Regions from separate parts of the Homo sapiens genome. Here region 2 is linked to region 1. The links come from fine-mapping of genetic effects on gene expression. A gene starts in region 1. The other region holds a variant in brackets. All regions are shown on one strand. Distances are from middle to middle.

Region 1 (5,370 bases):
CCTGGACCTACAAGCTTGGCCAGCTCAGCTAAGGAAGATCCAGAGGCCAAGAGGAAAGCAAGGGCAGGAACTGGAAAAAACAATCAAAGAAGCTGCTCCCTGCAGGCCTGGAGCCTTTTTTTGGTCTGCCTCCTCCTGTTCCCCCAGCACCCCCTGAACAGATGTGTCATCTAACAGTCTGGTCAGAGTAGCTGATTGGTGGAGGGTGAAGGACTGGGGGAAGGGGTGGAATGATTTGGGGGATAGGCACCTCTTCTGAAAAAGAATGGGCTAAGAGATCCAGGAGAGAGCTTTTCGCCCCATATACCCACCCCCTTGGGCTCCAGGAACCAGGAAGGAGGGAGAGGACAGAAAGGAGGAAAAAAACAAGGTCCAAGCTATATACCACATGATCCCACACCCTGCCACCAAACAGCAAGTCATGAAGGAAGGCGGGGAGCAGGCCAGGGGATGGGGAAATGGAGTCAGGTCACAGCCATGCCTGGAACCTGCACTAACGCCCTCCCCATCCCAGACCACAGAGAGCCAGCCAGGAAAGTCATTCCACACCCATGTTTCAGAAAACATTCAAGGTCAGATCCTTTTTACCTAAATCCTGCTTTCATTTGGGTTTGCACCAGGCTCATCCCCCTCCTCCAGCAAGCCTTCCTGGATTTATTCACTCAGTGGATGCCATTCCACTGGGGCAAACCTTTCCGGCACCTCTCCTGACCTAAGGCACAGTCCTGCCCCAATCCCCTTACCCTCCTACCCAGATCACTCCCAAGTTAACCACTTGAGTGATCCACAGCAGGCTGTCAGCCCCGGGGACTGGCTTCCAGCTCCTGCCCAAGCCCAAAACAGGAAATGGGGCTCCAAGGCTGAAGCCTTGATCTTAACACAGGCAAGGTTAAATGCTGCCAAAATAAATGATTTAAAAAAACCCTGGCCCACTGAGGTGGAAGTGACCGGGAGATAATCTCCTGCTGTTCATTAACCATGCCGCTGCCTCTACCTCAGGCAGGGCAGGGCAGGCAGGCAGGCCACTGGAAGGCTGACTCAAGTGTTTCCTTCCTTAACTTAGAAGCTCCTCCTATCCTCAGACCAGGGACACAGGACACAGAGGGACAGGATGGGGGTGGGGGGGTGACATCTCTAGATAGTGGAGGGCATCTTGAGAGCAAGAGGCAGATGCCCCCTGCAGCCAGCTTCTACGTTTAGCGGGGTAATCAACATTCAACCTCGCCCTGGAGGAAGACACCTGGCTTTCCTTCCCCCGTAGGGCAAGGCTGCGCCTCTCCACTCCCCTGCCGGACAGGCGCCCGCAGTTCCCCTCCCCTTTGAGGAAAGGGAGGCAGGCCCGGAGGTTCTAAGAACGGCCCCAAGATTTCCCTTCTTGAGGTTTCCATAGCCCCAAAGCCTCTGAATCTCATTCCTAACTTTACTTGACAATCTACTCCTAACGTTCGCCACCACTTAAACCTCCCCCAGGCCTCCCAGGGACCACCAGTGGCTGAGCCCCACACAGCGCACGTTTGGGAAGCTTGAAGACGACCCCGAAATGCGAAGAACCAACGTTTCTGTCGGTTTACGCCCTTAAGCACGAGGCAAGGGCTCACTGGCCCGGCTGAAGTTCGGGGTCCTGATCCCCCACCAGCCCCGCCCTGTTAGGCCTTTAGCCGTTTCTGTGCCCCCGCGCCCCCTACTCACTGCGTGTGCTGGGCGCGGCCTGCGCCGAAGACCTCGTCCAGCGCCACCGTGGCCTGGCCCAGGAACTTGTCGACGCCGATGAGCGAGCGGTGCATGGTGGTGAGCACCAGCTCGCAGGCGGCGGCGGAGCTCGCGGCCCAGGGCGCCGGGCCCGCGTCGGCCTCCTGCGCCCGCAGCAGGCCATCCAGGGCCCCCGGCGGCAGCTCGAAGGAGCACTCCTCACGCCACTCGGGGCAGCCGTGCGTCTTCTCCACCACCGACGTACTGTACTTCTCGCGGCCCACCTGGATCACCGTGTACGCGTCGCTGGTGCTGCCCGCTCCCGAGCTCTTGCCCCGCAGCCCGCGGGCCCGCAGCACCGTCACCTGGACGTGCGTGGGCAGCCAGCGGGAAGGCCCCGCCGCCGGCTCCGCGCCCCGCACCAGGGCCATGGCGGAGAAGCGGGGGGCGAGGTCTGGCCGAGCCGGTGCAGACCCCAGGACCTGGTGACAAACCCGGCCGCGGCAGAAGGCGGTCAGGAACCAACTCTGAGCGCCGCCGCAGCTGCGGGCTGGGCTGGGCCGGGCCGACCGGCCGCCGCCTCCCCGCCTCACCGGGCCGCTGGCCGCGGGCCGCGCCGCGACGTCAGCGCCCCGCCCCCTGCCCCGCCCCGCGCCCGCCGCCCCAACCGGCGAGGCGGTGCGACAGGGATGCGGGCACGCAGCTCGCGCCCCGGCAGCCGCAGACCAGCCCGGAGCGGGAAGGGGCGGTGCGCGGCCTCTGCAGAGGGTGGGCGGAGTTCCCGCGGTGGCCCCGCCCCTGGCTGGGGGCGCCCGAAGCAACCCGGCCTCGCTTGTGGGGAGCCCTACACCCGCGGCCAGGTACGAAAAACCCGCTCTGCGCCTCCAGGCCAATCCCACGTCTTCCTTCTAAAAGTCCCTGCTCCGGAAAGCCCTCTCCGTAAAAGGGTCCCGGCCCGCAGTTCCTGGGATGGCCAGCCTCTTGGCGCGGACTTGGGGTGATGGGGACCCCCGCCGCTCCCCTGACCCCGGGCCGCGCTCTCCCCTCCTCCAGTCCGCCCCTGCGGGGGAAAATGCCGGAGTGAAACTGGAGCGATTGCCGCCCCGCCACGTGACGGTCCCGCATCGGCGACCTGGAAGCGGGTGAGCTGCCGCCGCCTCCAATCTCTCCCGGCGCAGGGGGCCGGGATGCGGCCATGCGGCGGCGCGGGAGGCCCGAGAGCGGGGCTCACCCTCCTCAGACTCTGCGGCGGAGAGCCGAGTGATGAATAAATGAGTAACCACATCAATATTTAAGTGTTCACTCGGAGCCTTGGGGCCAGTGTGTCACGGGTTGGGGGAAATTACAGGCCCTGGTGGGGGGTTAAATAACTACTTCCACCCATTATTAAGTGCCTACTGTGTGCCAGGGCCTAAGTATTAACGTATACTTGGTTTATTATTGATAATAACGATGTTTAGTAATTATAGATGCTGAATTTCAGCCAACTCTGGTCAGTGCGCTTTTATATGCATTACCTCATTTTATCCTCAGAGCAACTCTGTGGGGTGAGTATGGCTTTTATCCCTATTTTCCAGAAGATAAAATGTCAGCTCAGATGGGGGAGGGTTGTGAATCCACTAGATGCCCCCAGAGCGTTTTTTTTTTTTTTAACTTTCAGAGCCTGTACTTTTAAAATAATAATTTAAAAATAATACACACAGCTTTTTTAAAAAAATCAAATAGGACAGAATGGCTTGCAATGAAAAGCAAGAACTCCCTCTCCATCCTTCAATCCAGGGATGCTGCTTAAAGCCACTGGTGTTTTCAGGTCTGATGGTTACCTCCACATCACTACATTAAGATGCTCACATAGCTACATCTGCATTTATCAGGACTGGCCACTGTCTGTTGCCTTCCTCCTATGATAGATAATGATTTAGCTGGCTCACACCCACTTCCATCCCTCAATCTTGTGTAGTTATGCTATTATTTTTAGTTCCTCTATAGCAGGGGTCCCCAACCCTTGGGCCACAGACTGGTAACCCTCCATGTCCTGTTAGGAACTGGGCTGCACAGTAGGAGGTGAGTGGTGGTAGGGGCTAGCTGGTGAAACTTCATCTGTATTTACAGCCGCTTCCTATCGCATTACCGCCTGAGCTCCACCTCCTGTCAGATCAGCTGTGGCATTAAATTCTCCTAGGAGCACAAACCCTATTGTGAACTGTGCATGCGAGGGATCTAGGTTGCATACTCCTTATGAGAATCTAATGCCTGATGATCTGTCACTGTCTCCCATCCCCAGATGGGACCATCTGGTTGCAGGAAAACAAGGTCAGGGCTCCCACTGATTCTACATTATGGTGAGTCATATAATTGCTTCATTATATATTACAATGTAATGATAAGAGAAATAAAGTGCACAGTAAATGTAATGCACTTGAATCATCCTGAAACCATCCCTGCCACCCTCAGTCTGTGGAAACTTACATTTTGGTCCCTGGTGTCAAAAAGGTGGGGAACCAGTGCTCTATAGGATACCCAACAGGAGAAACATGTATTTCTTCTTAGGGAGACTCCACAGTACCCCTCAACTGTCCACCTTCCAGGCCATGTCCTCTACTGGGAATATGAACCTAGGAAACCAGTAGAGTAGGCAGAGGAGACCCATGATAGCACACCCAGCACAGGCCCAGTCCTCACAGCCTCCCACCTTAACTCTTCCATCAGAAGACTGGAGTGGGGAAGTCCTAGGCACCAGCCCCATGGTCCAGCAACCCTGACGATAGCACCTAGCTTTAGAGACAGCCAGATCTGCCTACAGATATTGGCCATCTGCCTCTTAGTAGCTATGAAACCTGAAGTTTAAGCCAACTCTCTAACCTCTCTTGGCCTTATTTCTCCATTTGGATAATGGGATAATGATTCTTACCTCAAGCCAGGCGGAGTGGCTCACACCTGTAATCCCAGCACTTTAGGAGGCCCAGGCTGGTGGATCACTTGAAGCCAGGAGTTCAAGACCAGCCTGGGCAACATGGTGAAACCCCACCTCTACTACAAAGACAAAAAATTCCCCTGGCGTGGTGGTGGGCACCTGTAGTCCCAGCTACTTGGGAGGCTGAGGCACAAGGATCACTTGAACCTGGGAGGCAGAGGTTGCAGTGAGCCAAGATTGTGCTGCTACACTCCAGCCTGGGCGACAGAATGAGACTTTGTCTCAAAAAAATAAAAAATGGGGCCAGGCCTGGTGGCTCATGCCTGTAATCCCAGCACTTTGGGAGGCCGAGGCGGATGGATCACTTGAGGTCAGGAGTTCCAGACCTGCCTGACCAACATAGTGAAACCCCGTCTCTTCTGAAACTATGAAAATTAGCAGGGCATGGTGGGGCACACCTGTAATCCCAGCTACTCAGGAGGCTGAGGCACAAGAATCACTTGAACCTGGGAGACAGAGGTTGCAGTTAGCCAACATCGCACCACTGCACTCCAGCCTGTGCAACAGAGTGAGACTCTCTCTCAAAAAAAGAAAAAATGGAAATAAATCATAACGCAACCATCCATAAATAAACACTGTTAATAATTTGTTGTGTTTCTTTCTAGTCTTTATACTGTATGTGTTTGTTTTATATACATTATGGTTTTTGAGACATCTAAAGTATAATTATTAAATCTGTGGGCTTTGGAGTCCTGGTTCTACCATTA
Region 2 (5,370 bases), 76 kb before region 1:
GACCTTAGGAAAATAATGCAACCTCTCTGAGTCTCACTGGAAAATTGGGTTGATACAGGTACCTACTGACAAGTTTATGTGAAGATTAGCTGAGATAATATGTGGAAAGCGCTAGTACTTATGGTGCAATACCTGCCACTTCGTAAGCATGCAGCGAGCGGTGGCTCACCATGGGGAGGGGTCTTCCATATTTAGCCCCACCCACCTCCTCCATCCACACCAAATCATTCTGGCAAAGCCCCAGCATATACAAGTGTACAGATCAGAGTCAACATTCAGAAACTTAATGGCTGTGTCTATGCTTACATTTTTGTATACCATGGTTTTGTTTTTTTAACTGATAGCTACAGTCCTTATTACGGTTACTAGCTCTTCAAATTTTCACCTGCTAAACCCAAAAGTTAAATTATACTCATTTTTATTTTGTCCTCAGAACCAGTGATTCATTGGTATCGCAATCTTTTTTTTTTTTTTTTTTTTTTTTGAGACCGAGTCTCACTCTGTCACCCAGGCTGGAGTGCAGTGCTGTGATCTCGGCTCACTGCAACCTCCACCTCCTGGGTTCAAGCGATTCTCCTGTCTCAGCCTCCTGAGTAGCTGGGACTACAGGTGCATGCCACCATGCCTGGCTAATTTTTGTATTTTTGGTAGAGATGGGGTTTCACCATATTGGTCAGGCTGGTCTCGAACTCCTGACTTTAGGTGATCCACCTGTCTTGGCCTCCCAAAGTGCTGGGATTACAGGTGTGAGACACCACGCTTGGCTGGTATAGCAACCTTTAAACAAGGTAACGGTCCCTGGAGGAGAGAGCAGCCACCCACAACAGAAGACCAAACCAAGGCCATCAGGAGCAAACAAACAATCAATACATTTGCGCATACCCACTGGTGAGGTGTTGTACCTGGAGGTCAGGTTAGATGACAAACTGGGTAAAAAAAGAGAGTGTCACAAGTTAACCAGCACTGCCCACAACACCAGGACAGGCCTGCAGGCCTCAGGACCCAGTTGCAGGCTTCTGGCCCACACACCTGCAAAGGCATGAGAGCAGGCGCAGAGCCCAGGTGCAGGTGAGGCCACTGTCCAGACTGAGAACAAGAACCACCCGGGCCGCTTCAGATGAGCAGGGCCAGCCTGGGCCAGGAACAGTGACTGTTAACTATGGATTGCCAAGCCCCCCAAGCCCTGAGCTGCCATGTCACCACTTATCCCCTCTGCTCCTGTGTCTGCAGAGGCCAGAGGAAGGTGTAGATTGGCTGACTGAAGCCCAGGGAGGGAAGCATTTGTGAGAGCTGGTGCTGGGGGAGCCAGGAGGCTGGGGGAAGGGAGGGAGAGGGAGGATCTGCCTCTAGGGGGCCATAGTGGCAGGCTCACACCTAGAGCACTGTGCTACCCAGCCACCAGATGGACACTGCAGGCATCACCAACATGAGCCAGAATCGGGAAGCACAGTTAGTGCCAAGCTGCCCCTCCACCCAGTTCCCCTCCTCCTCAGCTCCCTTGAGGCACATGGGGGCTTTCAGGACAGAAAACAAAGGAGGCCTGGGAAACAGGACAGGCAGCTTCAAGCTACTGAAGGGAGCAAAGAGGAGGAAATGTGGCTTCATTCCCCAAACTCTGGGAGCTGGAAGGGGTCCCAAGAGGCCAACCTCAGCAAGAAAAGGGCAGAGCGGAGCCTGGGCCAGGAGGAAACACATGGTCAGGAGGCCATAGAGGCAGGACCCAACTCTCACAGGTCTCAGAAGAACACGAAAAGGGCTGGGGACTGCTTCGGCCTGAGTAGGGTGGGGTACCAGGTCACACCATCCAGGCTCTTAGGTGCTCATGGCCAGAGAGAAGTCCCATTGCTCAGGGAAGAGGAGATCGCAGCCTGCCCTCCCGGCTGACGGCTGCCCATGACTCAGCACGCAGTGCACACGCCTTCAGATGGGCCCCATGTAAGCAGGCACTGCGGGTCTGTCACTCTCCCAGGGCCCTGCACAGGGGCATCTGGCCAAGGTGCTGCTTCCGCTCATGCATTTGCCCTCTATTCCCATCACCATGCTCCAGTCTAGCACATTCGCCCATTCCCTCCTTCTGTAGGGTCTTGCTCCCTCGATCTCCAGCACAGTGTGCACCTCCTTGCCTGGACCACCCCCACCTGCTCTTCACCAGCCCTGTCAGCCCTCATATCTCAGGGGAGAAATCTCTTCCAGATGCCCTCAGTCTGGGAGGGTCACCCCTTCCACGGCTCTCCCATGGTATCATGTGCTTTCACTGTCACTGCCTGGTTTCTGGTGGTGTAGACAGGAACTTCATCCAGCTTCCTACCTGCTCTATCCCCCAGGCCCTACCCTCGCTTCTGGCCCATAGAGATGGATAGAAGAGAAAAAAGGTGAGAAAACCTACGTGTCAGCCTATGATGGCTAATATTTGACTAACAGAAGTTCCAGAATGAGAAAAAGTGATGAAAGCAATTAAAAATTTTGCCAGAGCTGAAGACAGGAGTCTTCAGATTGAAAGGGGTAATGAAGAATCCAAAATGATAAATTTTAAAAGAAACAGCATTGTGGAATTTCAGAAACAAATTTCACAGATAAAGAGAAGATCCTAAATATTTCCAAAGAAAGAAAACAGACCGCAAAGAATCAGGAATGAAACGGCATCAGGTTTTTCAACAGCTATATTGGAACCCAGAAGAAAATAGCGCAATGGTCTTCAAAAATCTGAAGGAAAATGATTGTCAACCTAGAATTTTCTCCTCAGCCAAACTGTCAATTAAGGCTGAGTGCAGAATTATAATTTTTCAGACATAAAAAGACTCAAAACTTTCTTCTCATTTACCCTTTTTCAGGAAGCTACGAGAAGAGGTGTTCCACCAAAATGATGAAATATACCAAGAAAAAGGAAGACCTGGAACTCGGAGGTAGGCCCCAGAAAGGAAAATTTCAGGAAAACAAAAAGAAACTCAAAGACAGAAATCTTCAGATTGCAAGGAGCACTGAAAATACAGTCATGCGTCACTTAACAACAGGGATATGTTCTGAGAAATGCATCATTAGGTGATTTCATCATTGTGCAAACAGCATAGAGCATCCTTACACAAACCTAGATGGGCAAGCCTGCAACACACCTAGGCTACCTCGTAGGTAGAGCCTACTGCTCCCTGGTTACAAGCCTGGGTAGTA[T/C]GTTACTGTACTGAATATATAGGCAACTATAACACAATGGTAGATATTTGTGTATGTAAACGGTTTGTGTATATTTGTGCACAGAAACAGTTCAGTAAAAATATGGCATAAAAGATAAACAATGGTCACCTGCATAGGGCACTTACCATGAATGGAGCTTGCAGGACTGGCAGTTGCTGTGGTGAGTCACTGAGTGTGTAGTGGGTGAATGTGAAGGCCTAGGTCATTACCGTACAGTACTATAGACTTTATAAACACCATACATTTAAGCACGCTAAATTTATTTTAAAAAAAAATTAGCCAGGTGTGGTGGTGTGTTACTCAGGAGGCTGAGGTGGGAGGAACACTTAAGCCTGAGAGTTTGAGGTTATAGTGAGCTACATCGCCCCACTGCACTCCAGGCCTGGGTGACAGAGCAAGACCTTGCCTCTTAAAAAAATTTCTTCAATAAAATGAACCTTAGCTTACTGTATATTTTTTACTTTATAAAATTTTAAATTTCAGATTTTTGACTCTTTTGTAATACTTAGCTTGAAACACAAACACATTGTACAAAATATTTTTCTTTATATCCTTATTCTGTAAGTTTTCTATTTTAAAACTTTCAACTTTTTTTTAACTATTTAAACTCTTAAAACTAACTAAAAACTAAGACACAAACAAACAGACTAGGCCTGCACAGGGTCAGGATCATCAAGACATCTCCAGGCAACAGGAATTTTTCAGTTCCATTATCATCTATTTTTGAGACACAGTCTCACTCTGTCGCCCAGGCTGGAGTGCAGTGGCGTGATCTCGACTCACTGCAACCTCCACCTCCTAGGTTCAAGTGATTCCCCCCTCCTCAGCCTCCCAAGTAGCTGGGATTACAAACATGTACCACTATGCCCGGCTAATTTTTGTATTTTTAGTGGAGACAGGGTTTCTTCAGGTTGGCCAGGATGGTCTCGAACTCCTGACCTCAAGTGATCCGCCCGCCTTGGCCTCCCAAAGTGCTGGGATTACAGGCATGAGCCACCACGCCTGGCCCCCATTATCATCTTATGGAACCACTGTCATATATGTGATCCCTTATTGACCAAAATGTCTTTATGTGGTGTATGACTGTATTGAAAGGCCGCGGGAGGGTACAGTGAGAGTGAGAGATGGTACAAAGGAAAGTATGCCAATGAAAAATCTGAGGTGGTTATTAACTCCAGATAAAACAAATTTGAAAAAGAGACATAATCATGATACAACCAGTCTGACTATGCAGTAAATGTTATTTCTATAATTGTAACGACATGAAGACTGAATATGTATAGGCCCCAAAACCATGATAACTATTTCAAGAGTGAGTATGGATGGCGGAAAGAAGTGTGTTTAGAGGGGTGGATGATAAGAGAGCTGAATCCTCAACTACCATAATAGATAACCCAAAAGAACTAATTGAGAAATAGCAGTGTAGATAAGCATATTTGTCTGAAAGATAGAATATAAATTTCTATCTGCAGAACAGCAAAAAGTAGTTGCTCCTGCGGAACAGGCATGGGAACTGGGGAGGGATAGGGAACATATACTATTTTTCCTTACAAGCACTATTTTATTTTATTTTATTTTATTTTATTTTATTTTATTTCTATTAATTTTTGAGACAGAGTTTCGCTTTGTTGCCCAGGCTGGAGTGCAGTGGCGCAGTCTCGGCTCACTGCAACCTCCATTTCCCAGGTTCAAGCGATTCTCCTGCCTCAACCTCATGAGTAGCTGGGATTACAGGCGTCCACCACCATGCCCGGCTGATTTTTTGTCTTTCAGTAAAGACACGGTTTCACCACGTTGCCCAGGCTGGTCTTGAACTCCTGAGCTCAGGCAATCTGCCTGCCTCGGCCTCCCAAAGTGCTAGGATTACAGGTGTGAGCCACCGTGCCCAGCCCCTTACAAGCACTTTAGTACTATTTGACTTCTTGAATTATGCACACATGACTTTGAAAATGTTTAAATTAATGTTTGAAAAAGTTTTTGAAATAAAGTTTATGAACAAAAAGACAGACTTTGGCACATGAACCATCAGTCTCTGTAATCATTAACTACTACCTTCCCTTACCCCTCCCCAAAACAAAACACCACCTTCAACATTTCAGGTATCTCTAATTTGAGTTCCTACACGATATTAAAAAAGAATAAAACAACAGTATCCTAATCCTAATCCTCAACATCCTCCCCCAT

The links. PIP is the estimated chance that this variant, and not a neighbour inherited with it, causes the effect.
Region 2: its variant is the best candidate, but not a certain one, in a credible set for the expression of RAB11FIP5 in whole blood (INTERVAL, PIP 0.77).

What each region holds. Positions count from the first base shown.
Region 1 is chr2:73,110,658-73,116,027 of GRCh38, forward strand. It overlaps RAB11FIP5 (RAB11 family interacting protein 5), which reads right to left and starts at 2,291. Exons shown (of 6, transcript NM_001371272.1): 1 at 1,690-2,291. The coding sequence starts at 2,120. RefSeq lists silencers at 899-1,142, 2,300-2,389, 2,460-2,619.
Region 2 is chr2:73,035,034-73,040,403 of GRCh38, forward strand. All of the region lies in intron 3 of SFXN5 (sideroflexin 5), which reads right to left. Among named protein-coding and RNA genes, the nearest start is that of SFXN5, 34 kb to the right of the region's middle. RefSeq lists an enhancer at 1,591-2,476. The variant T/C (reference allele first, on the strand shown) is at 3,166.